4 linked regions of the Homo sapiens genome follow. The main gene of each other region encodes a partner of the protein of the gene in region 3 in a complex. Each region holds a gene or a part of one and is shown on either strand. Other genes may lie near its edges. The genes, in order: MED23, MED26, CCNC and MED18.

What was found.
Region 1: CCNC (region 3) and MED23 share a complex: the UniProt entries of both Homo sapiens proteins name them as parts of the mediator complex.
Region 2: CCNC (region 3) and MED26 share a complex: the UniProt entries of both Homo sapiens proteins name them as parts of the mediator complex.
Region 4: CCNC (region 3) and MED18 share a complex: the UniProt entries of both Homo sapiens proteins name them as parts of the mediator complex.

The regions. Positions count from the first base shown.
Region 1 is NC_000006.12:131,590,224-131,597,257, reverse strand, and holds part of MED23 (mediator of RNA polymerase II transcription subunit 23), read left to right. Parts: intron 1-569; coding exon 570-740; intron 741-1,094; coding exon 1,095-1,311; intron 1,312-2,922; coding exon 2,923-3,159; intron 3,160-4,086; coding exon 4,087-4,252; intron 4,253-4,797; coding exon 4,798-4,870; intron 4,871-5,730; coding exon 5,731-5,945; intron 5,946-6,815; coding exon 6,816-6,936; intron 6,937-7,034. UniProt on the Homo sapiens protein: Required for transcriptional activation subsequent to the assembly of the pre-initiation complex. Component of the Mediator complex, a coactivator involved in the regulated transcription of nearly all RNA polymerase II-dependent genes.
Region 2 is NC_000019.10:16,576,198-16,583,231, forward strand, and holds part of MED26 (mediator of RNA polymerase II transcription subunit 26), read right to left. Parts: intron 2,618-7,034; exon of another isoform or gene 2,213-2,617; coding exon 2,138-2,212; intron 2,077-2,137; exon of another isoform or gene 1,969-2,076; intron 1,486-1,968; coding exon 1-1,485. UniProt on the Homo sapiens protein: Component of the Mediator complex, a coactivator involved in the regulated transcription of nearly all RNA polymerase II-dependent genes.
Region 3 is NC_000006.12:99,544,646-99,551,679, reverse strand, and holds part of CCNC (cyclin-C), read left to right. Parts: exon of another isoform or gene 1-651; coding exon 652-687; exon of another isoform or gene 688-1,087; coding exon of another isoform or gene 1,088-1,111; exon of another isoform or gene 1,112-1,370; coding exon 1,371-1,462; intron 1,463-2,104; coding exon 2,105-2,172; intron 2,173-2,280; coding exon of another isoform or gene 2,281-2,291; exon of another isoform or gene 2,292-2,368; intron 2,369-3,295; exon of another isoform or gene 3,296-3,383; intron 3,384-5,205; coding exon 5,206-5,285; intron 5,286-6,449; coding exon 6,450-6,568; intron 6,569-7,034. UniProt on the Homo sapiens protein: Component of the Mediator complex, a coactivator involved in regulated gene transcription of nearly all RNA polymerase II-dependent genes.
Region 4 is NC_000001.11:28,332,009-28,336,468, forward strand, and holds the end of MED18 (mediator of RNA polymerase II transcription subunit 18), read left to right. Parts: intron 1-2,408; coding exon 2,409-2,962; 3' UTR 2,963-3,957; downstream 3,958-4,460. UniProt on the Homo sapiens protein: Component of the Mediator complex, a coactivator involved in the regulated transcription of nearly all RNA polymerase II-dependent genes.

The sequences.
Region 1 (7,034 bases), about 32 Mb from region 3:
TGTTCTGCCCGCCTCGGCCTCCGAAAGTTCTGGGATTACAAGTGTGAGCCACCGCGCCTGGCCTTCGGGTAGATTTCTTTAAAAAGATATTGAAGTAGGCTGGAAAATGCTACATTGAAAAAAATTCTATGGCGGTGACATTTGGAGTGGCATAGTTTAACGTTAACCCCTTAGCTGTGGAGCATAGATATAAAAGTAGTTATTATATTTTAGGGGGAATAATGTAAGTCTATAAATCAATAAGATGTCAGGATAAGATGGAGGTGTAGAAAAAATATTTCTAGGAAACAGTGAGAAATCTTATCTGCTTAGGTGATAGCTGTGAAAGATAGATTAAATTTTTAAAAGTAAAGATGGACATCCCAGGCAGAAGGAATGGTAAGCCAGAAATAGGCAAGAAAGGTCATATATGTTTGGGGAATACTGAACAGTTGGTTTGGGATAGACTAGACGTCTAAGGAAATTATAATAGTGAGATTTTACTTTGTTAAAATCTAGGCTTTCAGATGGCCCTCATGATTTTACACAGGTTGAACATTTTCATATAATTTTTCTGTTGTTTTTCAAAGGCCATGCGTAGTCACGAAGGAAATGAAGCCCAGGTTTGTTATTTCATAATTCAGTTGCTGTTACTCAAACCAAACGATTTTAGAAATCGAGTAAGTGACTTTGTGAAGGAAAATTCCCCAGAGCACTGGTTACAGAATGACTGGCACACCAAGCACATGAATTATCACAAGGTACTAGTCCTAATTGGTATTTCAAATAGTCCTTTTAAAGCCATACTTGAGTATTTGATGAAGTGATTTGGCCGTTTTCTCTCTGGTTCTAATGTTTTTTCTCTTGTCTATATAGAAGTAAGTTAGCTCTCTGAACTTCTTCAAGGTTTGAGAGTTTCTATAATGTTGAGAATAAATTGAAACTGCAGTTTTAGTGGACATAAGGACTTCTATAAAAAGAAGTAAAGTATAATCAAGTATAATTTTAAATGTTTCCTTGCAAAAAAAAATCTAAACAATGTTTTCACATTTAGCTCTTTTAAGAGAATTTTTTAAAAAATGCTCTAACCATTTATCATCTTCTCAATTCCACAGAAATATCCAGAGAAGTTGTATTTTGAGGGCCTCGCGGAACAGGTGGATCCTCCTGTACAGATCCAGTCTCCCTATCTGCCCATCTATTTTGGGAATGTGTGTCTTCGATTCCTTCCAGTATTTGATATAGTAATCCACAGATTTTTAGAGTTGCTTCCGGTATCCAAATCACTGGAGACTCTACTGGATCATCTAGGAGGCTTATATAAATTTCATGGTGAGCTTTTTCCAATTTTAATTTCGTCTAATACCTCCATTATCAAAAGTAGGATGGGCAGGACCACATGGTAATAGTGGCTCTAAAGGTTTTATTTTAAATATTTTAAAAATGAAGTGTTTTGAGGATAAGTACTATGGATGGTGCCATGAAGTATAAAATATACAACATAAAAATATAAACAAAAGTATGAGTTCAGAACAGGGTGATGTTACTGTAAACTAAACAGATCTTGGCGGCCTTCTTGGATGGGTAGGATTTGGACTTGATGCATCCAATTTATAGCAGCAGCAGGGAAAATATAGCACACGAGGCAGAAGGGATCATTTGGGGGAAATCATGGAGGAGATAAAGTATATTTGAAGAAAAATTGCTACATTGGGTTGAATTGAAAATTCTTACCAGAGAGTTCTAGAAATAAGATTGGAAAGACAGATTGTACCTAACTGTAGATCACCTTGAATGCTAGGCTGATTTTGTAATTGCAGATAATAATCAACTGGAAGTTATTGAGTATGATCATGGCATAGGAAACATTATTTCAGAAAGATACATCCAGTTATAGTTGGCAGCAGTCTTAGGATGAAGCCATTACAAGGACATGTCAAAAAGCTCAGTTGTGTGATTAGTATCTAAGCAACAGTGGTTGCATTGAAAATGAGAGAAAAGGGACAAATGGTCACAAAAGAAGGAACAGGACTTGATTGGCTGGTTATAAGGAGAATATTGAAAGAAAAAGACAACTAAAATTTTAAGCATAGTTACTGGAGAGTGGCAGGGTCAGTGACAGAAATGTGAAGGTCCTGGAGCAGCCACTCTGGGAACAAAGTGTTTGTCTGGCAGGCAGTCCTGCTTCATCTTTAAGATACCTTCCCTCAGAGCAGAAGTATGAATTGTGTGTTAACATGGTAGAATAGGCATAAAGTTCAAGTGAGCGTTCTTTTAAAAACATTTTTCTTTTGGATTAGGTAATATACATACTTGATGGGGTGGAGTATACAGTGAAAGGTAATTAGTCCCATCCTGGCCTCCAGCTACCCAGTTTCTTTCGTAGGCAGCCAGTGTTACCAGTCTCTTGCCATCCCCTCTTAGATATCCTGGCTGGTTTTGTTTGTTTGTTTGTTTGTTTGTTTGTTTGTTTTAACACAAGTGTTCTGTACCCTGTTTGTTTCAACTTTATCATGTATTAGGGTTGGTCATTTGTATTAGTACGTAAAGAGCTGCCTCATACATGCCAGATTTACTTTATCAGTCCCCTGTTTTTGACCTTTTAGGCTGTTTTTCATCTTTCGCTAGTATAAACAGGGCTGCAATGACATCCCTTGTTGTATGTCAAGGGATTAAAATTTATGCAGGATAAATTTTCAGAAATGGAATTGCTTCCACTTAAATAAAAACAAATATAAATACAAACTGTATATTACTAGAAACATTCTGAGCCTTCTGCCTCTCCTCAGATTAAAATATTCATAGTATACAATTGCCCAGCATGTGAAGTTGTTTCATAAATCTTCTGAGCTGTTTTTCAGTTATCTGGAAAGCAGTTGATCAGTTTTTCACAGTTATTAGTAACCAGTTAAACATTGTGGTGGTATGTTTTTTTCTTGGCAGATCGTCCAGTGACTTATCTGTATAACACTCTGCACTATTATGAAATGCACCTGAGAGACCGCGCATTTCTCAAACGAAAACTCGTCCATGCGATCATTGGCTCTCTGAAGGATAATCGACCGCAGGGCTGGTGTCTAAGTGACACTTACCTGAAATGCGCTATGAATGCACGAGAGGAAAATCCTTGGGTTCCAGATGACACCTACTATTGCAGATTGATTGGCAGACTAGTCGATAATATCCTTTTTATTGTGATTTTAGACTCCCAGAAATAACAGTATTTTGATTTATGAGAATATATTTTTTCTTTTAAAGTAATTTTTTATGTATTTCAAGGTTTTAATTTTTTTTAAGATCACTTCCATTTTCATCTCTGTAAAGATTTGAAATCTTAAATTAACAGCATCATGCCAATTAGGCTGAAATTCTGTTAAAATTTTTATTTTAGAACTTGAGGATAAGCGGTAAAAAAATTATATTTAAAAATAGACTTTATGGAGATTTGTTTCAAAGAAAAAATCTTATTCTTACATACTATATTTTGTAGCACATGCATCTGTGTGCTACTGGAGAACGTAGGATCTTGTTACTTTAAAAAAATTAATGTTTGTAGTAAATAATAAATGATAAAATATATTTTTCTTTATTGAAAAGGTATATTTTAGTGAAAATATACTTGGATGTTTATTTCTTCATTTTGATTTTATATTTTCAGTTATTAGCACTCTATACTTAATGTCTATAACCATACCACTATTTTACTAGGTAAGAAATTCTACATAAATGAGCATGACTTATTTTCCTACACAAAGGAATTTATTTTCTGAAGCAAAAGAATGACTCATTAGAAAATAATTTTCATATTAATGTCTTATAACTATTAAAAGAAATAGGCTCATGAAACCTAGGTAAACCTTGGTTGCATCTGTGGCTATTATATGTCATATTTATAAGAACCCACCTGAAAGACCAACCATTTATACCTGTGGTTAATCAAATGGTTGCTTTTAATACATTTCAATCATGTCAAACTCATTTGTATTTGGTTTGCATTTGCCTCTTAATCTCTCTAAGCGTAGACAAATCACTTCTTGGCAGCTCATAATCAGATAAATTGACAATCAGATGAGATAGTCCAATTGTTATTGCTTTAACTGTGTGCACCGATGGCTGGCAAATCTCCTGGTCCCTTTCCAAACTGTGACTGGAGATTCAATGAGTTTCCCAACCCAGCTGCCCATGCTCTCCATGTTACTTGTGTGGAGCTCATGGCCTTGGCAGTTTCAGGCAAAGAAGTTGGGAATGCCCTTCTAAATGTTGTCCTAAAAAGGTATGTATTCTGGTTCATGCAGTAAGATTTGTTGTTTATTTGTAAATAGAATGGTATTCTATTTCAAACTTTTAAGACAAACCTGTTGCCGCAAGGCTGATGCACATTGGATGATGACTGTTTTCTGGTTCCAGATCTTGTCTTTGTGATATAGGAGTTATGGAATGAGCCCTGGACAGGATCCTAAGATCCGGGTTTGTTCCTACTTCTACTCATTAATAGCAGTTTGACATTTAATATAGGAATAATGTTAACTTGTCACTTAAAACAAGATTCTCTTCATCTTGTTTTCAAGATTTCAAGATTCTTTTAAAAATTAGCATGAAGTATGGGATAATGATTGGGGAGGAAGTATTTTTAAAAAGCCTTCTTGAGTTTTTATGCATATTACATTTTTATTCAATAAAAAATTCCCCATTGTTTTATTGAAATGGATTAGTTGTCGATCCTCTGAATTAGACATATTCTTTAAAAATAAGATCCGTTGTCAGCCATCTAAAATGTTTTTATAAATTCATACTTACATTCTTTTTTGCCGGTTGCAGTCAGCCTTTAGTGCCAAGAGAGAACATTACAGCATGGATGAATGCAATTGGTTTGATCATCACTGCCCTACCAGTGAGTTAATAATTGTGATTTGTACTTAGTGATGAAATACAGCCAGCTGTTCCATGTCAGCAAAAAGAAAAAGATGCATATAGGATGCCCTTGTACGGGACGTCATGCAAATTAATGAAGTATTTTATGTTTTTAAAGTTTTTTCATATTATTACTGCTTTAAAAATCTACAGTGACTAGTTTTTGCTTTTCTGTATTAGATCTAAATATATCTATGTGACTTACGGGTCTCTGCATTTTCTGGTACCACCTTACCTATCCAACTTTAGTTTTTACATAATAGCTTGATCTACTCTTGGCCACTTAACGTGTTGTATATCTACAGCCTTTGTTCCTTCAGATAGTGCTTAAGACATGTTTTAGGTACTTCTGAATGTGAGGGAATAAGACATTTTTCTTATTCCAGAAGCTTCTTCTTTCCATCACCTTCTCTAAAGCCTATTCATTCTTTGCTAGCTTAGAGCCTCCTTTCTCAGTGAATGAAGCCTTCCCTGACTTTTCCAGCTCACATGAAGACTCCTTTCTCTGACCTCCACACATATTTTTTTAAAGTTTATTATTTTTAAATAAGTAATAAAGCTATAGATTTATTGTTTGATAAATTAATTGATTTACTGCATAGTGTATATCAGGTACCTAAATGAGCTGGACAGATACATGTATGGAGCCCCTTAACTCACAGTTACTTCTCCCAGGTTGTTACTGACTTAATTTGACCAGTTACAAAGCCACCCAGCTGTATTGTGCAGAAGCTGGAAAAATAGAAAACTTTAAAGAATGAGAAAACACTATTACTTTAGACTTTGGGGTGGAATGCTGGATAAGTGATATTTTTCACTAGCTTTCCTCCGATTTTAAAGGAGCCATATTGGATTGTTCTTCATGATCGAATTGTGAGTGTCATCAGCAGCCCCAGCTTGACGTCTGAAACAGAGTGGGTTGGCTATCCATTCCGCCTCTTTGATTTCACTGCCTGTCATCAGTCCTACTCTGAGATGAGTTGTAGCTATACGTTAGCTCTTGCACATGCTGTGTGGCACCATTCTAGCATCGGACAACTTTCTCTCATTCCAAAGTAAGTATAATAATTTCTTAAAGAAATTTGACGTAGGCTGGGTGCGGTGGTTCATGCCTGTAATCCCAGCACTTTGGGAGGCCGAGGTGGGCAGATCACAAGGTCAGGCGATTGAGACCATCCTGGCCAACATTGTGAAACCCCATCTCTACTAAAAATACAAAAATTAGCTGGGCATGTGGTGTGTGCCTGTAACCCCAGCTACTCGGGAGGCTAAGGCAGGAGAATCACTTGAACCAGGGAGCTGGAAATTGCAGTGAACCAAGATCGCGCCACTGCACTCCAGCCTGGTGACAGAGTGAGACTCCATCTGAAAAAAAAAAAAAAATTGTATTTCATTTTGTTCTAATCTCATTAACAGATGAGGTATATACTTCATTCATTAGAACAACTTGCGGCTGGGCGCGGTGACTCATGCCTGTAATCCCAGCAATTTGGGAGGCCGAGATGGGTGGATCACAAGGTCAGGAGATTGAGACCATCCTGGCCAACATGGTGAAACCCCGTCTCTACTAAAAATAAAAGAATTAGCCAGGCGTGGTGGTGTGCACCTGTAATCCCAGCTAGTCAGCAGGAGAATCACTTGAACCCAGGAGGCGGAGGTTGCAGTGAGCCAAGATCACGCCACTGCACTCCAGCCCAGGCAACAGTGTGAGACTCCGTCTCAAAAAAATAAATAAATAAAAATAATCAAGTGAAAGTAATAGCCAGTGAGAGATGTGAGATTAATTAGAAATATTATTGTTACCAAATTAAAAGGAACTTTAAAAAATTATATTTTATTGTAATACTTTGTATATACTGTATGAACAAAATTCAAACAATTTAAATAATTTCAAGTCACAGGAGATTTTTATCTTCAAATTTTAGGTTTCTTACTGAAGTACTTCTTCCTATAGTGAAGACCGAATTCCAGTTGCTTTATGTATACCATCTTGTTGGACCATTTTTACAAAGATTTCAGCAAGAGAGAACTCGTTGTATGATAGAGGTAAAATATAATCTGGGTTTCCTGTGACATGATTAAATTCTGAAGTATCTATTTAAGTTTCTTTACCAGTGTTATTGAAACTGCAGGTCACAACCATT
Region 2 (7,034 bases), on a different chromosome or scaffold from region 3:
GGTCAGACCAGGGAGGTCCGTGGGCGGGCTTTGAGGCACCAGCACATGCAGCTGCCTGGCCCCTTGCCGGGTGCTCTCCTCCTGCTTCAGGTACTCAGACATGAAGTGGTGAGCCCCTGGGGTCTGCGCGCCCGATGATGAGAGCAGGCTGCTCTGCCGGCTCAGGTAGGACTGGATGATCTCGTTGCGTGACAGCTCCTTCCAGTTCGTCTGTTCGAAGGGGCTCTGGAGGCTGGCCTTGGCCTCCTGCTTGTCCAGCTCTGTCCTGGACTGCTGCTCCATGTGCACAGGGCTGTCTGCCCGCACTGGCTCTTTCTGGGTCAGAGGTTTGATCTGTCTCGTCATGGGGTCAAAGGTGAGCTTCCGCTCTTTTAACCGGACAGGCTTGACGCCCGCCTCAGCCACCTGCCCGTCCAAGTTAACCGTATAGTCTCGAGGTCGGTACCTCTTCTTCTTTTTACTGTCCGAGCCCCCTGAGGAGGCAGCATCACTGTCCGCCTTGGAGGAGTCTGGGGAAAAGCCTGCCCGGGACAGGAGGGGCTCGGCTGGGGACAGCCCTGCCTTGCAGCCCGGCCCCGCCAGCCGCTGGTGGCTCTCAGGCTGCTCAAGCCAGCACACTGGGCTTTCCGCACTGGGCAGCAGCTCGAGCCGCCGTACGGGGGGTGTGGACGGCTGTGCCAGTGGAAGCGGTGACGGCACCTGTGTGGCATCGAGTGCCTGGGGCCGCGGTGAGGGGCTGGGCACGGAGCCCTTGGGTGCATACAAGCTCTGCTGCCGGGCAAAGGAGCCCTCATGCCGTGAGTTCCGAGGACTGAAAGAGCAGCGAGGGGGTCCCTTGGGATGGGGAGGCCCCGGAGTCTCGTCCACCCTGTCCAGCTGCTGCAGCACCGAAGCCTTTGGCTGCAAGCAGGGTCCAGGGGGCTTGCCCAGGCCCGGGGAGCTGGTGTGCGGTCGCACGGCGTTGACGGGGATCTTGCCACTGTGCTTGTCATTCTCGTCACGCTCCAGGCGGCTGCCCTCTGGGCCTGCATGCCCACTGCCATCCAGGGAGCTGGCGAAGCTCTCTGGACTCCCACTGATCCCGTTGGTGGGGAGGGGGGATGAGTTGGGGACCAGGGGGTCGTGGCTAGCTTTGGAGACCTTGGGTGGCGGCCCTGGGTGGCCGAGGTCACGCTGGTCACCCCGGCGCTTGCGGCTGCCCAGCCTGTCCAGCCGCTGCCCGGGCAGCCTCTGGAGGTCATTGCGGCTCTTCAGGTCATGGATGCTCCTGGGTGGGCCAGCCGCCCCCACCTCCGGCCGGCAGTTGTGTGCGCCCCCGTTGGCAGAGCCGGTGGCCCCCGCCAGCCCCCGCAGCGCCGCCTCATGCTGGTGTGCCGGCTCGATGAGCTTCTGCCAGCTCCGCAGCAGCTTCTTGGCCCGCTTGGCGAGCTCCTCGTTCTTGGTTTTCTTGCGGACGTCGTTGATGAGCTTCCCAAGTCGTGTTTCCTACAACCAGAGGGAGATGATGACATACTTTCGGGACAGGAACTTCTCCATGAGCTGAGCCAGAAATGGTGGGAAGTGGCCCTGACAGTGAAATGACCCGGTTCCCACTGAGCCCTAAACTGCCAGCTTCCCTGACACAAAACTTCTGGGGATTTCCGGTCCTTTGTGACAATATAAATTCTCAAACCTAGTTCCCAGACCTTCAGGGTCCCAGGTGGCTTCTCAGCAGTGCTGTCACCCAGGCTCCTGGTGTCAGGGGGCTGTGGACCATCAAGGCCACTGTAAGGACACTGCCAGAGAGGCTTCCTGGGTGAGAGGGTGCTGTGGCCGAGGCGACAGCACAGAGGGTCCGCTTCAAGTGGAGGGTTGGGGATGGTGCCTCTCACTGGAGCCTCCTCCAAGCACACCTCTCCTGATGTCCCCACGTGCCCACGAAGTGTGCTGGGCATGTAGGATGGGAGTAACACCACTTGGTCTCTGCAGTGCCCGTGGGAGAGCAAGATCGCGAGGCACGAGCTGTGAGGGCACACCGCCTCTCTTGGTCCTCCGAAGCAAAGACACTGATGCTCCCAGAAGCTGCGGAAGGACCTGGTTGGTACCATCCCCTGCCCCCCGTTCTGCCCTCCCAAATGCTGGGGTCTGGGATACTCACCTCAAGTGCCTCTTTGGTAATAGGGTATTTCTCCAGGCTGGAGATGACTTCCAGCACCGCCACCATGTTCCGGATCTGTGGAAATAAAAAGCCATTTGTCAGGTCCCTGTCCTTCTCCACTGGGAGGCTGGAACACCCTGCCCCAGCCTGCTCCAGTCTCTCCCCAACCCCAGAGCAAGAGGAGCCAGCAGCACTGAAGCCCCCACTCCATGTCGTCTCCTACCTGCTCCCTGGGCCAACCTGGCACCCAGTGCTCATCCTCACCTGCCGTCTGACCTCCTCCAGTGTGTGGTGTGCGGGCTGCCCCAAGCCCTCCAGTGTACATGGTACATACCCACCCACCTGCTGAAACCCAGGATGCCTGTGGAACAAGAGCTGCTCCTGATACTTAAGATGACCTCTACTCTGCCATCTGATGGGAGTGGGAGAGGAGACACGGAAGAATTCATCGAATAAAATCCACAAAGCTTAAAAGATCAATACACAGGCCAGGCGCGGTGGCTGACACCTGTAATCCCAGCACTTTGGGAGGCTGACGAAGGCGGATCAGAAGGTCAGGAGTTTGAGACCAGCCTGGCCAACACAGTGAAACCCCATCTCTATTAAAAATACAAAAATTAGTTGGGTGTGCTGGCATGCGCCTGTAGTTCCAGCTACTTGGGAGGCTGAGGCACGAGAACCACTTGAACCCGGGAGGCGGAGGGTGTAGTGAGCTGAGACCACACCACTGCACTCCAGCCTGGGTGACAGAGCAAGACTCCGTGTAAAAAATAATAATAATAATAATAATGATAAACCAGTCAATCTGAATCCAAAGACACCATAAAGAGAGCAGAAAGTCACAAAGTGGGAGAAGGCATAGGCCACAGGCCCCCAAGGAGCTGTATCTGGAACACAGAATGCCTGTACAGCAGTACAGCTGACCAGGAGCCCGGCGTAGACTGGCCACAAGACAGGAACAGGCACACGGCAATGAAATGTCAGTGCTGATGCTCAGCCTCTCAGCTTTATCGATAATCAGGAAAACTCAAACTGAACCCACAAATGGATACATGATACACGTGCCCCACTGACAACACTAGGTACTTCGGGGGATACAGCTGACTTTGGGGACTGCTGGGCTTTGTCTGGCAGAGTGAAGCATGAACACATCCCATGACCAAGTAATCCCTCCCTTTTAGGATCTTGCTAGGAGCCACACCTTGTTCTAAGCACTTCCCACACATTACTGACTCCCTTAATTGTTACAACAAGAATTCCTACCACTCAACCACCACCTCCAGCAACTACAGGTTTCTGGTGGGCTGGCTAGCGGGTGGGAGCCCAGGGGCCCTGAGGAAACCACAGTGAGTAGATTACTCAACTCCCCCCCACCCCAACATGATAAAGGAGTTAAGCGGGCACATGATACAAATTAAAACAGCATAAAAGGGCACACAAGGAAATGGGCATCTCTGACCCAGCCACTGTAGCATTTCCTTGCATTTTTTTCCAAAAATATCCCTTGTGTATATAGGCGTATACATCCACACTTATCACATATTTCAAAACCAAACTGACAGTGGTTCTTGCCTTTTCTGACTTAATGTCAGCAATGTCCAGCCTCAAACAGAGCCCCTCATTTGGCTCACCATCCCTTCCAGAGTGGGGAAGGCCCGACTTGAATGCTGTGGGACACTTAGGCACTTTCCGTCCGCCATTACAAAATAAGGCTGCAACCGACGGCAGTGACAGACCTGACTCTGAGCTAGTGCACAGACAGCCATGGAGGAGCTGGGGCTCCACATCCATGCAGGGTGGTCACCTCACCCCCAGGGAGGCTGCTCTATTCCATTCCCACCAGGCCACATCCTTGCCAAGACTGCGTGGCAAGAGTTTCCGTAACACATGATTGTAAACTTAGCATCTTACACAGCACACATTTATCATCTTAGGCTCTAGGGCTCAGAAATCAGGTCTGAGTCTCACTGGGCTGGGATCCTCTCTAGAGGATCCATTTCCTGCTCCTTCAGGTGTTAGCAGAGTTCAGCTCTTATTTTGTTTTTTTTTTTGAGATGAAGTTTCACTCTTGTCGCCCAGGCTGGAGTGCAATGGCACGATCTCGGCTCACTGCAACCTCCGTCTCCTGGGTTCAAGCAATTCTCCTGCCTCAGCCTCCCGAGTAGCTGAGATTATAGGCACCCGCCACCACGCCCAGCTAATTTTTGTATTTTTTTTTAGTAGGGACAGGGTTTCACCATGTTGAAGGCTGGTCTTGAACTCCTGACCTCAGGTGATCTGCCCTCCTCGGCCTCCCAAAGTGCTGGGATTACAAGCGTGAGCCACTGCACCCGGCCCAGAGTTCAGCTCTTTACACTACAGGAATGAGGCCCATTTTCTTGCTGGTTGTCATCCGAAGCCATTCCCAGCTTCTGGAGGGCACTGCATCCAGCTCACACCCCCTCCCCTTATGCTCAAAGCCAGCTACAGGCTGAGTCCTCACCCGGCATCTCTCTGACCCAGCCAGGATAGGTGCCATCTCTAAGGACTCCCTGACTAGGCAGGGCCTGCCCAGATGATCTCGGATCACCTCCCCATCTCCAGGCTGTTCCCTTAGTCACATCTGTCATGTACGGTACCATGTGCCCAGGCTCCAGGACTAGAATGTGGACGTCCTTGAGGGCTGTTAATTCTGCTGGCCTCATGGATTCTGGCTTTTCTACTCTTCTGCCCCACTTCCAGTGGGAGGCAGCCACTGCCACTCCCTCCCTTCCCGTGTTGTCTCCTCTGGGTGTAAAGTTGCAGAGCCACGACAGCAGTCCCCGCAGAACTCCCACAAAGCTGCCCTGCCAATGGGCCCATTTGCTCTTTGGCAACAACGGCCTTGCCTTGCAATGTTCTCCATTCAGGGCTCCAAATGACCCTGAAAACCCTGCTTCAAGCTGTGTCATGGTGGGGGTGGACGGGTGATATGAGGGGAGATACAGTCCTGTCCGCACTCCTCGTGCAATGGGCAGGGATCAGTGCAGGGGAAGACTGTGCGATGAGGAGGCCAGTCCCAGACAGACAGCAAGGCCAACCACTCCCTGCCCCAGGCACTCCAGCACCGACTCAGTCCCTGGGCTTGCCACATGGCTTCACCTCCACCCTGCTGACCTCACCCTGGTATATTTGGAGCCCTGGTTCCCCACATACTCCTGAAGCAGCAGTCCTTGCAGAGCAGAACACTGCCCAGACCCAGCTAGCCTGGTGGCACAAAGTGTCCTTGTCCTTGGGCAGACACCATCCTGCTGCCAGACAAGAGGGAGGAGACAGAACACCTGGGCAACCCCAGGGTCTGGTACTGAGCTGGTGCCCCAGAAATCACCGCTGAACTAACAGCCAGTCCCAAGAGTCTCCTGGAAACTGTGTGGGAGCTGGGGACACCAGGCGAAGGTGTGAGGGCCCTGTGACTGTGTATCCTTACCCTTGGCCCCTCCCCTGCCTTATGAGCCACGCTTAAGCGTGTGCAGAGAGGCCTTCAGCCTCTAGGAGCCCCAAGGGAAATGCTACAGCCTTGGCAGTCCCCTTTCTGTCCCCACCGTGTGAGCTGCTCACCTGAGGAGTAGAGGAGCCCGCCTGCTCTACCTGTAAGGTGCTAGAAACCCACAGTCCTACGCCGTAAACAGATGAACTCTGCCAACACCTGAAGGGGCAGAAAATGGATCCTCCAGAGAGGAGCGCAGCTCGCTGCTTCCTGGATCCCAGCCCGGTGAGACTGGAGCTGACTTCTGAGCCCTAGAGCCTGAGATGATAAATGTGTGTTGTGTAAGACACAGAGAGAGGGTGAGTGTCCAGTGCGGCCACTCCCTGGAGCCAGCAGAAGGCAGTCAGTGATGTCAGCAGAGCTAAGGATGGGGGCAAGGTGAGACTGCCCTGCCCTGCGACCTCTGGGGCATTGATGTCAAGCAGTCTGAACACTGTGTGGGGAGCACCACCTGGGCATCCAGACACAGGCCTCCCAGGCCCAGGAGGCAGACACTGAGCAATGCAGCGAGGAATCCCTGCAAAGGGCCTGGCCCCGACCCCAGGCACACTGAGCCAGAAGGCTCCACAGAGCCTCTTTATAGATGGCCACAGTCTGTCCCAAAGAACACTTAGCACCCAATTGGTGCTGGTCCCATAGGAGCAAAATAGGAGCTGGCTTCTGACCCTGGCCCTGGGGACCCTGCCTTAACAACCAACTGACCCCCCACCCAGGAGTGGCAGGTCTCCCACTCTCATGGAGGTGGCCCTCTGTGAGTGACAGAGACACCAGGACTCGTATGTGGCTGAGGGGAGGCTCCCGCTCTGACTCCAGGCCTGCTAAGTCCAGCATGAACCCTCAGGGCAGGGAGGCAGGCCACAGGGGGAGGGCAGCACCTAAGGTGGCCTCCCAGGGAGGTCAAAAAAGGATGTGGCAGAACGAGCTGTGTCCACCTGGGCTGGAGACCGACTTCCATGCTGGAAAGCAGAAAAGAGCTGGAGAAGGATGGGCAGGGAGCTGGCCAGACAGCACCAAAGCCCTGCGGCAGGGGAGAGGCCATGGGTAAGGACACCGGGAGGAAAAACAGACCCAAAAGACCCAAGGTGGCTCCTTCACAACCTGTCTTCTATCCCCCTTAGCGACTGCCCCCACAGACCACCTGCCCTTGCCCTGTTTCTGGGATGCCCTTGGCACCTGTCCATCTATCTGGGGAAGTACACTAGATCCTAATCTCAGCACAGACACAGTTTGACTCCACATGGGGAGCCGCTCCAGGCGATGGCCTCAAAAGATGGCTTTAAGGCAGCTCTTCAGGCTTGCCAGGGCCATGTCTGTGGCCCGATGGCCAATTGCAGCCTCTTGCTGTCAGGAATAGCCTGGCACATCTGAGGCCCCCTCCTCCTTTGGATTCTC
Region 3 (7,034 bases):
AAAAAAAATACTTCATAGTGGCGATTATCAACCCTGGCTGCTCATTAAATCACCTTGGGAACTTGTAAATAATACTGATGTTGGATCCTTTCCAGAACAACAAAATCAGAATTTTCAGCCTTGGGGCTCCCAACATTGGTACTGTGTAAAAGGTCCCAGGTGATACTACTATTTAGCTGGGATTAAAAACTAATGGAACAATATGAAATATAAGGTGAATTTCTATTGACATTTTAATAGGTATGTCCTTTTTCCACCTTGCAAGGGATTTGTTTATTCTCTTTAAGTTACATTTTTTAAATTAAGTAGAAATAATTGTATTTTTGCATTTGCTGAGTAGAAAGTATACTGGAAAATCTGATGGTTTTACAGGATATTTTAAATAAAAGTGAGTAATAAGAATGATTGTGAGAAGCTGGCTTTTCCTTACAAGGATTAAAATCCTTATAATCATAATTGCATTTCTAATAGTAATTTTTTATTGCAGATATTTATTTTAATATAAACTATGTTTATTGTCTGGATTTTTAAAACTTTTTAGTAAAAATTTTTGATAAATTACTATAATGTCTGTAATTTATGTTAGATTAAGTGGACTTATCTAATTTGGTTTCATATTGACATTTCATTGATAATCTTTGTTTTAAACAGATATTAGAATGTGAATTCTATCTGTTAGAACTAATGGTAAGTAAATCTTCTGTGATTAATAGATTAAAACATTTTTAAATTAAATGAAGTTGGAAATTATTTAAAGAAATGATTTTAGAGAGGTACATTTTAAAACCATCCACCTAATATGTGATGGTGAAATCATGGTAGCCTATTTATATTAGCACCTAGAGTCTCTCTGAAGCCTGTAAAATAATTTGTATATCCTACTTAGGATGGGAAAATTTTTCTGTTCTATAGTAAGTAACTATAATGAAAGGATTACAAACAGACAAGTCAGGACATTAAACCACCATAAATTATGTGCACAATTTGTGTGTGCGTGCAGTGTTATTTAAAGATAGATTATGTCTTTGGCAGAATTCTGCTCCTCCAGTTGGGAATTATGAATTTATAGGCTAATAAGAGGTTTCAGTGTGTTGCAGATGTGACACTTTGAGTCTCTAAGGGAATGAATGGATGCTGACTGACTGCCAACCGATTTATCAAGGTATATTCCAGAGAGAGCACTGCCTTCACTATTACGGTAGAGTTTAGGGCTGTCATACTGCTAGCTTAAGAGAATAAAAGGGAAGCAAGCATGAGTTAGTGAAATTCACTTTGAAATACACAATTACAAATCAGTTGGGTAATGATAACATTTTTGTGTTGTAATAAATCTGTTTTTTATACATACACATTTTTTAAACTGTTTCTAGGATTGTTGCTTGATAGTGTATCATCCTTATAGACCTTTGCTCCAGTATGTGCAGGACATGGGCCAAGAAGACATGTTGCTTCCCCTTGCATGGTAATTAGAACAGAAGTTATTAATAGTGTAACATGTTATTAGATAGGAAGGTTGACAATTAAATATGAAGTTAAGTATTTTTAAAGTCATTAAACTATTGCCCCAAGATATTTTATGTTGAGCAAAATACCACTTGTTGAATTTTAATAACTATAGTGGTGTAAATGCCAAAATGAAAACAATCCTAAATTATCTGTTCCATAAATATACCTATTAAAATTTAATTTTATACAAAACACAGACTGTTAACATAAAAATTAAGACTGAAGTTATCTTTAAAGTAATCAGAATACTTTTTGGTAGTCTGCAACATACATATAAATTTACTGTATAATTTCTGGTTTTTTAATTTGATTTTTCTGATTTTTAAAAAATTAGAAAAATGTGTTTATAATTTGTTATGAGATTTTGAAATTTAAAATATATTTAGCTGTAATTTTATTCATTGATATGTGCTTATTTGTTGTCACATTCATGTATCCATCCTTTTGCCTTGATGTTTTCACTTTTATAGCTGTGCTTCAGTAGTATAAAAGGAAATAAATGTGTGCAAAGATGGGAAATCTGGCCCTCTCTGGAGGAAATATACAATCAGATGAGGTAGTTCTGCTTTCAGTAATAATATGATTTACATTTCTATAGGAGGATAGTGAATGATACCTACAGAACGGATCTTTGCCTACTGTATCCTCCTTTCATGATAGCTTTAGGTATGTAAGCATGGTGTGCCTTTATGAGTTAAATTGTTATAAACTTATTTAGGTCATCCTAAACTAAATTTCACCCTATTGTACTTTATGTTTTTATGTTCCATGAAGTAATAGACTAATCCTTGCATGTGAGCTTTCAATAATATGAACTGCAACTGTCATAAATCAGGATTATTATTCCCCCACCCCCTTTTTGGTAAGTTTTTTTTTTTTTTTTTTGAAACCATTCAAAATAGTTTTAATCGGTGTCTGAATAGAACATATTTGTTTGTTTAGAGGGAAAAGTTCAGAATTAAGCCAGCTAATATTAGTTGTAGCATGTAAAATAATTGGGGCTTTCATATCCTGAGCCCAAACAAATACTCAGAGGTTGAGTAAAGGAGCATCTGTGGTCCATAATGCTTGGCTGGAGGAAGACGTTAAGTACATTCATTCTACAGTCTGTGGAAAGCAGTGCTGTAATGGGTGGAGTCAGATAGTCCTAGGCTTAAACTTTACCTCCTTTACAATTGTGGGAAAATTATCTGACCTTTCCGTGTTTGTTTCCTTAATTGTAAAATGGAGAGAATACTAATAATTCCACTGAGCCGTTTGAAGAATTAAATGAGATAGGTTGTAGAGCACCAAATAATGCCTGTTATATATTGGGCACTTGTTAATTTTTGTTCCTTTTCCTTCTATTGATTTTTTTTTTTTTTTTTTTTTGAGATGGAGTCTCACTCTGTCTCCCAGGCTGGAGTGCAGTGGTGTGATCTTGGCTCACTGCAACCTCTGCCTCCTGGGTTCAAGCGATTCTCCTGCCTACAGGAGGATTATAGGTGTCCACCACCATACCTGGCTAATTTTTGTATTTTTAGTAGAGACAGGGTTTCGCCATGTTGGCCAGGCTGGTCTTGAACTCCTGACCTCAGGTGATCCACCCTCCTTGGCCTCTCAGAGTGCTGGGATTACAGGCGTGAGCCACTGCACCCCAGCCCCTTCTATTGATTTTTATAACTCCATCCTCTTGATTTTCCCCTCTTATTTTCCATTGGTTTGTCTTTGTTCAGTTGTTCAATTATTCCTTAAATGTTGATGTTTCTTGGCCTTCTTACATCAGGGCTGACAAATAGGTTATACTTACACTTCTGTATTACTGGCAGTTCCCTGAAAGGACTGGATTTGAAAGGATTTTGAGTGGTGTCCTACCCAGTGGGTAGGAATACTGGGATCTGCATAGGTAGGAAGGAAGGGATAACAGAACATGTGTCACATCTTTGCCATCCCTGCTGTCTTCTTCTTGGGTACTTTAACTGAGATTCATGGCTTCTACTATCACTTACATGCCGAAACATTTAAATCTCTTTATTTAGCCAAGATCTTGCCACTTGGCAGTTCTTTATATCCATCTTCCTTTTACATAGCTCCGCTTGGCATCCCACCAGCACCTCAGACTCATGATGAGGATTGAGCTTATCACTTTGCCCCAAAATATGTTCCTCCTTTTAATGTCTTTGCCAGTTTGGTGAATAGCACTAGTTATATACCTTAGTTGGAAACCCAGCAGTTAGGCCCTTTCATCTCCCTCAATACCCACATGTAGTTGTTTACCAGTACATTTTGTGCCTTCCTCTCGATTGTTCCTTCTGTAATCTCATAGTCATCTTCTCATTTCTATCCATGTTACCACAGCAGTCTCCTAACTGGCTTATTAGCCTCCAGCACTCCCATCCTCAGAGAGCCTGTCTATCTTCCAAACTGTTGAGCTAGGCTAGTGGTTTCACCTGGGGATAATTTTGCCCCGAGGGGACATTTGGCAATGTTTGGTTTTAGTTGTCATAACTAGGGTAGGGTGCTACTAGCATCTAGTGGGTAGAAGCCAGGGATGCTGCCAAGCATCTTGTAGTATTCAAGACAGTGTCAAAGAATTGTTCAACCTAAGATGTCAGTAGTGCCAAGATTGAGAAACCCGGAGCTAGCCAAATTCGTCTCCCAATTGATATACATACTATTCTCTTCTCCCACTCTCATTTTTTTTTTTTGTAAGACTTGGCTTAGATATCAGCTCTTCAGTGACCCTCCCCCACCCTTTCAGCATCACCTCAGTCTGGGTTTAGGATGCTTCCTCAATCTTCAGTGTACTCTATGCATGCCCATGTTAATAGCATTGTCCACTGTATTTTAATTTCCTGTTTTTATCATGTCAGTCATTTGGTTTTTTTTAACCTCTTCTTGACCTAAGCCCTACTCATAGCTTTGCTTGACTTAGGGCAACCAGTGTGTCAGTTCACATTTGAGTTGCTATTTGCCTAGAATGTCATCCTTAGCAAAGACATGGATAACCAGACCACGGAGTATAACTTAAGCTGGAGTGGGTTAAGGGTATACAGGCTGCTCAGTAGAAATTGTTTTAGGCAAAATTATGATGTAGATTCCTCTCTTTTGTTAGTTTATATTGTATATAACATATATAACTAATATTGTATACAGTATATTACATTTATTTTCTAACCTTTATTTGATTACAACACTGAATTCTGTAAGGATGTGCCCAGCTTTCACATAACTTGATCATGTGCTAATAATGAAAAGGAAGAAAAAAGGCCAGGCAACACTGCTTTTAACTGAAATGTGGAAACACAGTCAACATTGTTAAAACCTAGTATATTAATTAACATTTTTGTTTGTTTTGTTTTGTCACACTGACTTCTGGGTGCAGTTTAACGGCTACTTTGTACACTACTCAGGGATAACTTCCCTTTTCTGCTCTCCTCATTGGATGTTTTTCCTCTTTAACGTGCCTGACTCTCAAGGCAACTGCACCATGACTAGCACGCAGTGAGGACCAGATGTCAAGAACTTGATGTAATCTAGTAATTTTTTCTGTCTCGGATTACATTGATGAGATGGTCAGTGGTAACTCTCATATGTAGCTGTTTAATGTTTTTTAAAGAGTGTTGGAAAATACACAGGAAATAGTGAAAAATCTTTGTTAGATCATATATTCTGTGTTTGCAGTTAAACATGGACAGTTGTCTCTCATTTTCATTTCAGCTTGCCTACATGTAGCCTGTGTTGTACAGCAGAAAGATGCCAGGCAATGGTTTGCTGAGCTTTCTGTGGATATGGAAAAGGTATTCCCTTAGTTGTATGTAAACTTGGATGTTTAAAAATTAATGTCATATTTACTTATCATGAGCCTAAAATCTTGTGATGTCCACCAGGCTAAGAAGATTATTGGTTACAAAATATTAAGAAACATGGGCTGGGCATGGTGGTTTGTGTCTGTAATCCCAGCACTTTGGGAGGCCTAGGTGGGCGGATCACCTGAGGTCAGGAGTTCAAGACCAGCCTGACCAATATGGTGAAACCCCGTCTCTACTGAAAATACAAAAATTAGCTGGGTGTGGTGGCATGCACCTGTACTCCCAGCTACTCGGGAGGCTGAGACAGAATTGCTTGAACCTGGGAGGCAGAGGTTGCAGTGAGCCAAGATCGTGCCACTGCACGCGAGCCTGGGCAACAGAGCGAGACTCCGTTTAAAAAAAAAAAAAGTTTGGTAGGAAGAGTTAATGCTGATTATTTAAGTTATGTATCTCTTTTCAGTTTAGGATTAAACAGAATGGTAAACTTTTGGTTTAATTGGTTGCAAAGTAGCCTCTCATTCCCAGGATTATTTTAAAAGCTCCCTGGTAACCACTGAATACTACTGTGAACTTCTGTAACATAGCCTATCTCCTGGCAGAATGGCTTTTGCTGTGTTTCTAGCTTTTCTGCTCAAGTGTTAAATGCATTAAAATTAATCCTAAGGTTAGGTTCTACTCAGGTGGGAAAAAAATAGCTAATTTGTTAACTAGTTGTTTCAAATTTGTAGCTGCCAGTTTTTGAGCACCTTAATGTATGTGTAGTAACAGAGAATCAAAACATCTTTTGTGCACTACCCCCGATTAAGTTGTTTAAAATAATTTATACTAGAGGAGTGTGCTCTATAGTGGTATATTCCCTCATGATTAGAACCTTTATTCTTAGTATGTTTCAGTTTAAAAGATACCATCAGATGGAAGGAAATCAGCTGCAGAGATAGATAAGAATGGACAATGCACACATGCTGAAAAATGAGATGCTAGAAGGAAAATCCTAAACAGCACTGTGGTGAAAAATACTGCTTTCAAATTTATCAGGATTTAAGGACAGAGACTATTTACTGTTTTCTGAGGGTTGTGTAGTGATGTATGCTCTTTATATAAAAAATGTTGCTTGTTTTTGCCACTGAGAACTTTTCAAATATTTTCTTCTAGATTTTGGAAATAATCAGGGTTATTTTAAAACTATATGAGCAGTGGAAGAATTTCGATGAGAGAAAAGAGATGGCAACCATTCTTAGTAAGATGCCAAAACCAAAACCACCTCCAAACAGGTACTTTGTAGACTTTAATTATTGATGTCATTTAATCATATATCATACTTACTATATTTTTCTTAGATTATGTTGTTTTGTAGTTTTTAAAACATTTCTTCCAAAACTTCATGATCCATGTTAATTTTATTTTTTAAATTTGTGATTTGATTGAGAATGTCTCATTTAAAAAAATCACTAATCTGATTAGTAACTTTTCCTAATGCAGTGGAGGTATATTACAGGTATCTCTCAACATATGGTCATATACCATAAATTTAAAGCTGACAGAATTAGGTAAGTTCATCTGAAATTCAGGGCAGAATTCAGAACTATAGTAGTTTCATGTCAGTTTGATTCTGTGCCATCTTTTTTTTTTTTTTTTTTCACTGCTGGCTATTGTCCTGTTTTATAAATTTCAGTAGCAATTTTCAAAAATTTCAATGAATGATCTGATATTGTAAAGATAAAGAATTTTGGTTTTTAA
Region 4 (4,460 bases), on a different chromosome or scaffold from region 3:
CTGGGATTACAGGCGTGAGCCACCGCGCCCAGCCAGATTTTGTAAACAAGTATCTGAATATGTTCCTAACATTTGAGCCATAGCCATGGAGGCAGAAAGATGACTAAAAAAATGTATGTCAAGCCAGCTGTTACAGGCTTATGCCTGTAATTCCAGTTGTTTGGGAGGCTAAGGCTGCAGTACTGCTTGAGTTCGGGAATTCAGGATTAGTCTGGACAACATAGCAAGAACTCATCTCTACTAAAAAAAAAAATTAGCTGGGCATGGTGGTGCGCACCTGTAGTCTGAACCACTTGGGAGGCTGAGGCGGGAGGATCACTTGAGCCCAGGGGATGGAGGCTGCAAAGAGTTATAATCACGCCACTGCTCTATAGCCTGGAGACAGAGTGAGACCCTACCTAAAAAAAAAAAACAAAACTATGCCATAAAAATAAAGCAGGAAAGTGGCTAGAGATTGGTAGGACACATACTATTTTATTAGGGTGATCAGAAAAGGCCTTGATGATAAAGTCACTTGAGCAGAGACCTGACAAAAGTGATAGAGTAGACATGCAGATGGGAAGAACATCCTAAGCACAGAGAATAGGAGAAGGGGTGTGGCAGGAAGGTCACTCCTGGAGAGAATGATCAAGGGGAGGAATAGAAGGAGATGATGTTTGGCAGGTAGCAGAGACCATAATATGTAGGGCCTTGTTGACAACGGTAAAGATGTTGGCTTTTATTCTGAATGACACAGGAAGCCACTGTAGTGTCCTGAGTAGAGGAGTGTTATTATCTGCCCAATAATTTAATAGACCATTTGGCTTTCATATGGAGAAGAGAGGAAGAAGGCAAAGGTAGAAAGAGGCGATTGCAAAGACCAGGCAAGAAATGAGGGTGACTTCATTTGAAGGGACTAGGTTGAAGTGACCAGATGAGTGAGAAGTGATTGCATTCTGCATTTATTTCAAAAATACGGATTCAATGGAGGGTATGAGAGAAAGAAAGAGGGTGTGAGTCAAAGATGATTTTCTGGTTTTTGGCCTGGGTAACCAACTAAAAACAGAGAGTTGCCATTTACTGTGATGTTGAAGACTGTAGGGTGAATAAGATTTTGGAGGAAAAAATCAACAGTTTGATATTGAACATGTTAAGATAAAGATGTCTGTTAGGCATCCAAGTGAGGAAACTGAGTAGGAAGTTGGATGTTTTCATCTGTAGTTCAGAGATAAAAACGTGGGAGTCCTCAGGGCCTAAATGATATTTAAAGCCATGGGACCAAATAAAGTCACCTAGGCAGGAAAAGAGTATTGATACAGAAGAGGACCAGGATTGAGTCCTAGTCCTCCAGTGTTTGGGGAAGATGAGAGAGACCAAGCAAAGAAGACTTAAACGGAATGGTCAGCAAGTTAAGTGAAGACAAGAAAGTTGTGTCTCAGAGGCCAAGGGAAGAATAGATTTCATAGTGGGTATAATCTACTGTAACAATTATGTCAGATGTTGCCAAGAGGATGAAGATTCTATGAAGCAATTCACTCTCTTCTACTTACATACAGAAGAGGAAAACTTTTCCTGATAAAAAGGAAACTTTAGCCAGGTGCAGTGGCTCCATGCCTGTAATCTCAGCACTTTGGGAGGCTGAGGCAGGCGGATCACGAGGTCAAGAGATCGAGACCATCCTGGCCAACATGGTGAAACCCTGTCTCTACTAAAAATACAACAATTAGCTGGGCGTGGTGGCACACGCCTGTAGTCCCAGTTACTCAGGAGGCTGAGGCAGGAGAATCGCTTGAACCCAGGAGGTGGAGGTTGCAGTGAGCTGAGATCGCACCACTGCACTCCAGCCTGAAGACAGAGCTAGACTCCGTCTCAAAAAAAGCGGGGGAGACTTTATATTTCTTCTATAAATGGAAGACTTTGATTTGTTGGAAATAGAAGGCAATTGTTAAAATATATAACAACAAAATAGTGTTATTGGCTGGGCATGGTGGCTTGTGCCTGTAATCCCAACACTTTGGGAGACCAAGGCCAGGAGTTCAAGACCACCCTGGGCAACATAGTAAGACCCCAACTCTACAAAAATAAATAAATACATAACTAAAACAGTATTATTACATTCTAGATAGACACTGTCGCTGATTAAAGGCTCTAAGCCCCAGGCCTGCTGGAGATGAGCATTAGAAGAGGCCTAAAGACTTTGTAGTGCTAAATAAGAAAATTCCAAAAAAATTGAAAAGGAAAATAACTTTCTCACAACGTTATACAATACCTTGGTAGTGTAATTTCTGTAAAATCTCATGTTTGGCTGTATGTTTTATGAAATGCTTCACTAAACTGTTTTGGTTTTTCATTTAAGTTTTTTCAATTGTATACTAACTCCATGACCTAAAATGAAAGACAGGACTCAGTGGTGCTTTTTCCGTTTTCAGGAAGTGTTTTAGATCACAGTTTGGAAAGCCTCATCCACCGCCTTCGTGGTTTGTGTGACAACATGGAACCTGAGACTTTCCTTGACCATGAGATGGTATTCCTCCTTAAGGGCCAGCAAGCCAGCCCATTTGTTCTCAGGGCCCGACGCTCTATGGACAGGGCAGGGGCACCCTGGCATCTGCGCTACCTGGGACAGCCAGAAATGGGAGACAAGAACCGCCATGCCCTGGTGCGAAACTGCGTGGACATTGCCACATCTGAGAACCTCACCGACTTCTTGATGGAAATGGGCTTCCGCATGGACCATGAGTTTGTTGCTAAGGGACATTTGTTCCGTAAGGGCATCATGAAGATTATGGTGTACAAGATTTTCCGCATCCTGGTGCCAGGGAACACAGACAGCACTGAGGCCTTGTCACTCTCCTATCTCGTGGAATTAAGTGTGGTAGCACCCGCTGGGCAGGACATGGTCTCTGATGACATGAAGAACTTCGCAGAACAGCTAAAACCTCTGGTTCACCTAGAGAAAATAGACCCCAAGAGGCTCATGTGACTAAGAGGATCTGTCCACATTTGGGGCCTATCCTTACTTGTTTGAAAAAATATGTTTGCTTTTTTTGGTTTTTGTTTTGTTTTGTTTTTGAGACAGAGTCTCGCTTTGTTTCCCAGGCTGGAGTGCAGTGGCACGATCTCGGCTCACTGCAACCTCTGCCTCCTGGGTTCAAGCAATTCTCCCACCTCAGCCTCCTGAGTAGCTGGGATTACAGGCACATGCCACCATGCTCAGCTAATTTTTGTATTTTTAGTAGAAATGGGGATTCACCATGTTGGTCAGGCTATTCTCGAACTCCTGACCTCGTGATCCACCCACCTTGGCCTCCCAAAGTGCTGGGATTACAGGCATGAGCCACCACGCCTGGCCAAAAAAATATGTTTTAAATGTCCCATTTCACCATTGCCAGGCAGGCATTCTTCCTTCAGGGAGAGGATGGTGAGAATTAATTGGTTCTTTGCACTGTTCTCCTCATGTGGCGATTTCACTTTCATGACAGCCTTTCTATATTAAAGGCTCAGGATGTCACGGAGAATCTATCTAATCCCACTGTATTAAGAGGGGAAACCGGGCCAAGCGCAGTGGCTCACACCTCTAATCCCAGCACTTTGGGAGGCTGAGGTAGGTGGATCACCCAAGGTCAGGAGTTTGAGACCAGCCTGGCCAAATGGTGAAACCCCATCTCTACGAAAAATACAAAATTTAGCCGGGCATGGTAGCAGGCGCTTGTAATCCCAGCTACTTGGGAGGCTGAGGCTGGAGAATCGCTTGAACCCAGGAGGTGAAGGTTGCAGTGACCAGAGATGACGCCATTGCACTCCAGCCTGGGTGAGAAGAGCGAAACTCCGTCTCAAAAAAAAATAAAAATGAAGAGGGGAAACCAGAATAAATTATCTTTTGGAAAGGACAATTTCTTGTTTGGCCATTTGTGTATAAGGTTGGTAACATTAGAGGCTGTGAGCTTGTGTTACATGGTAATAAAGCCAATGAAGAGACATGTCTGTGTAATTCTGATTCTTTATTCCCTTACCCTGTAAATTTGGGGTAGATTCATTACCAGTTGAAGCAAAAAAAATGACAGTTCCTAGTTTTAATTGTGGCAGAGATGAGGATGAGAGTTTTCACCTTTCATAAAAGTAGCATATTTATTGTTGAAAACTTTTAAAATATAGTACAGATAGAAAATAACACCTATTATCCAAAGAGAAGTACTAGTTCTATTTTGGTATATATCCATCTAGTCTTTATTTTTTTATAAATTTATGTATATGAAATGTGTTTATTTTATAAAAAGATTCCATATATACTGGTTTATAACCCTTTTTTCCCATTCATCTATCATTAACATCTTTCCAGGACATTTGTCTACACTCCCCTTTTGTTAAAAAAAATTTTTTTTTTTTTTTGAGACAGAGTTTCGCTCTTGTTGCCCAGGCTGGAGTGCAGTACTGCGATGATCTCAGCTCACTGCAACCTCCACCTCCCAGGTCCAAGTGAT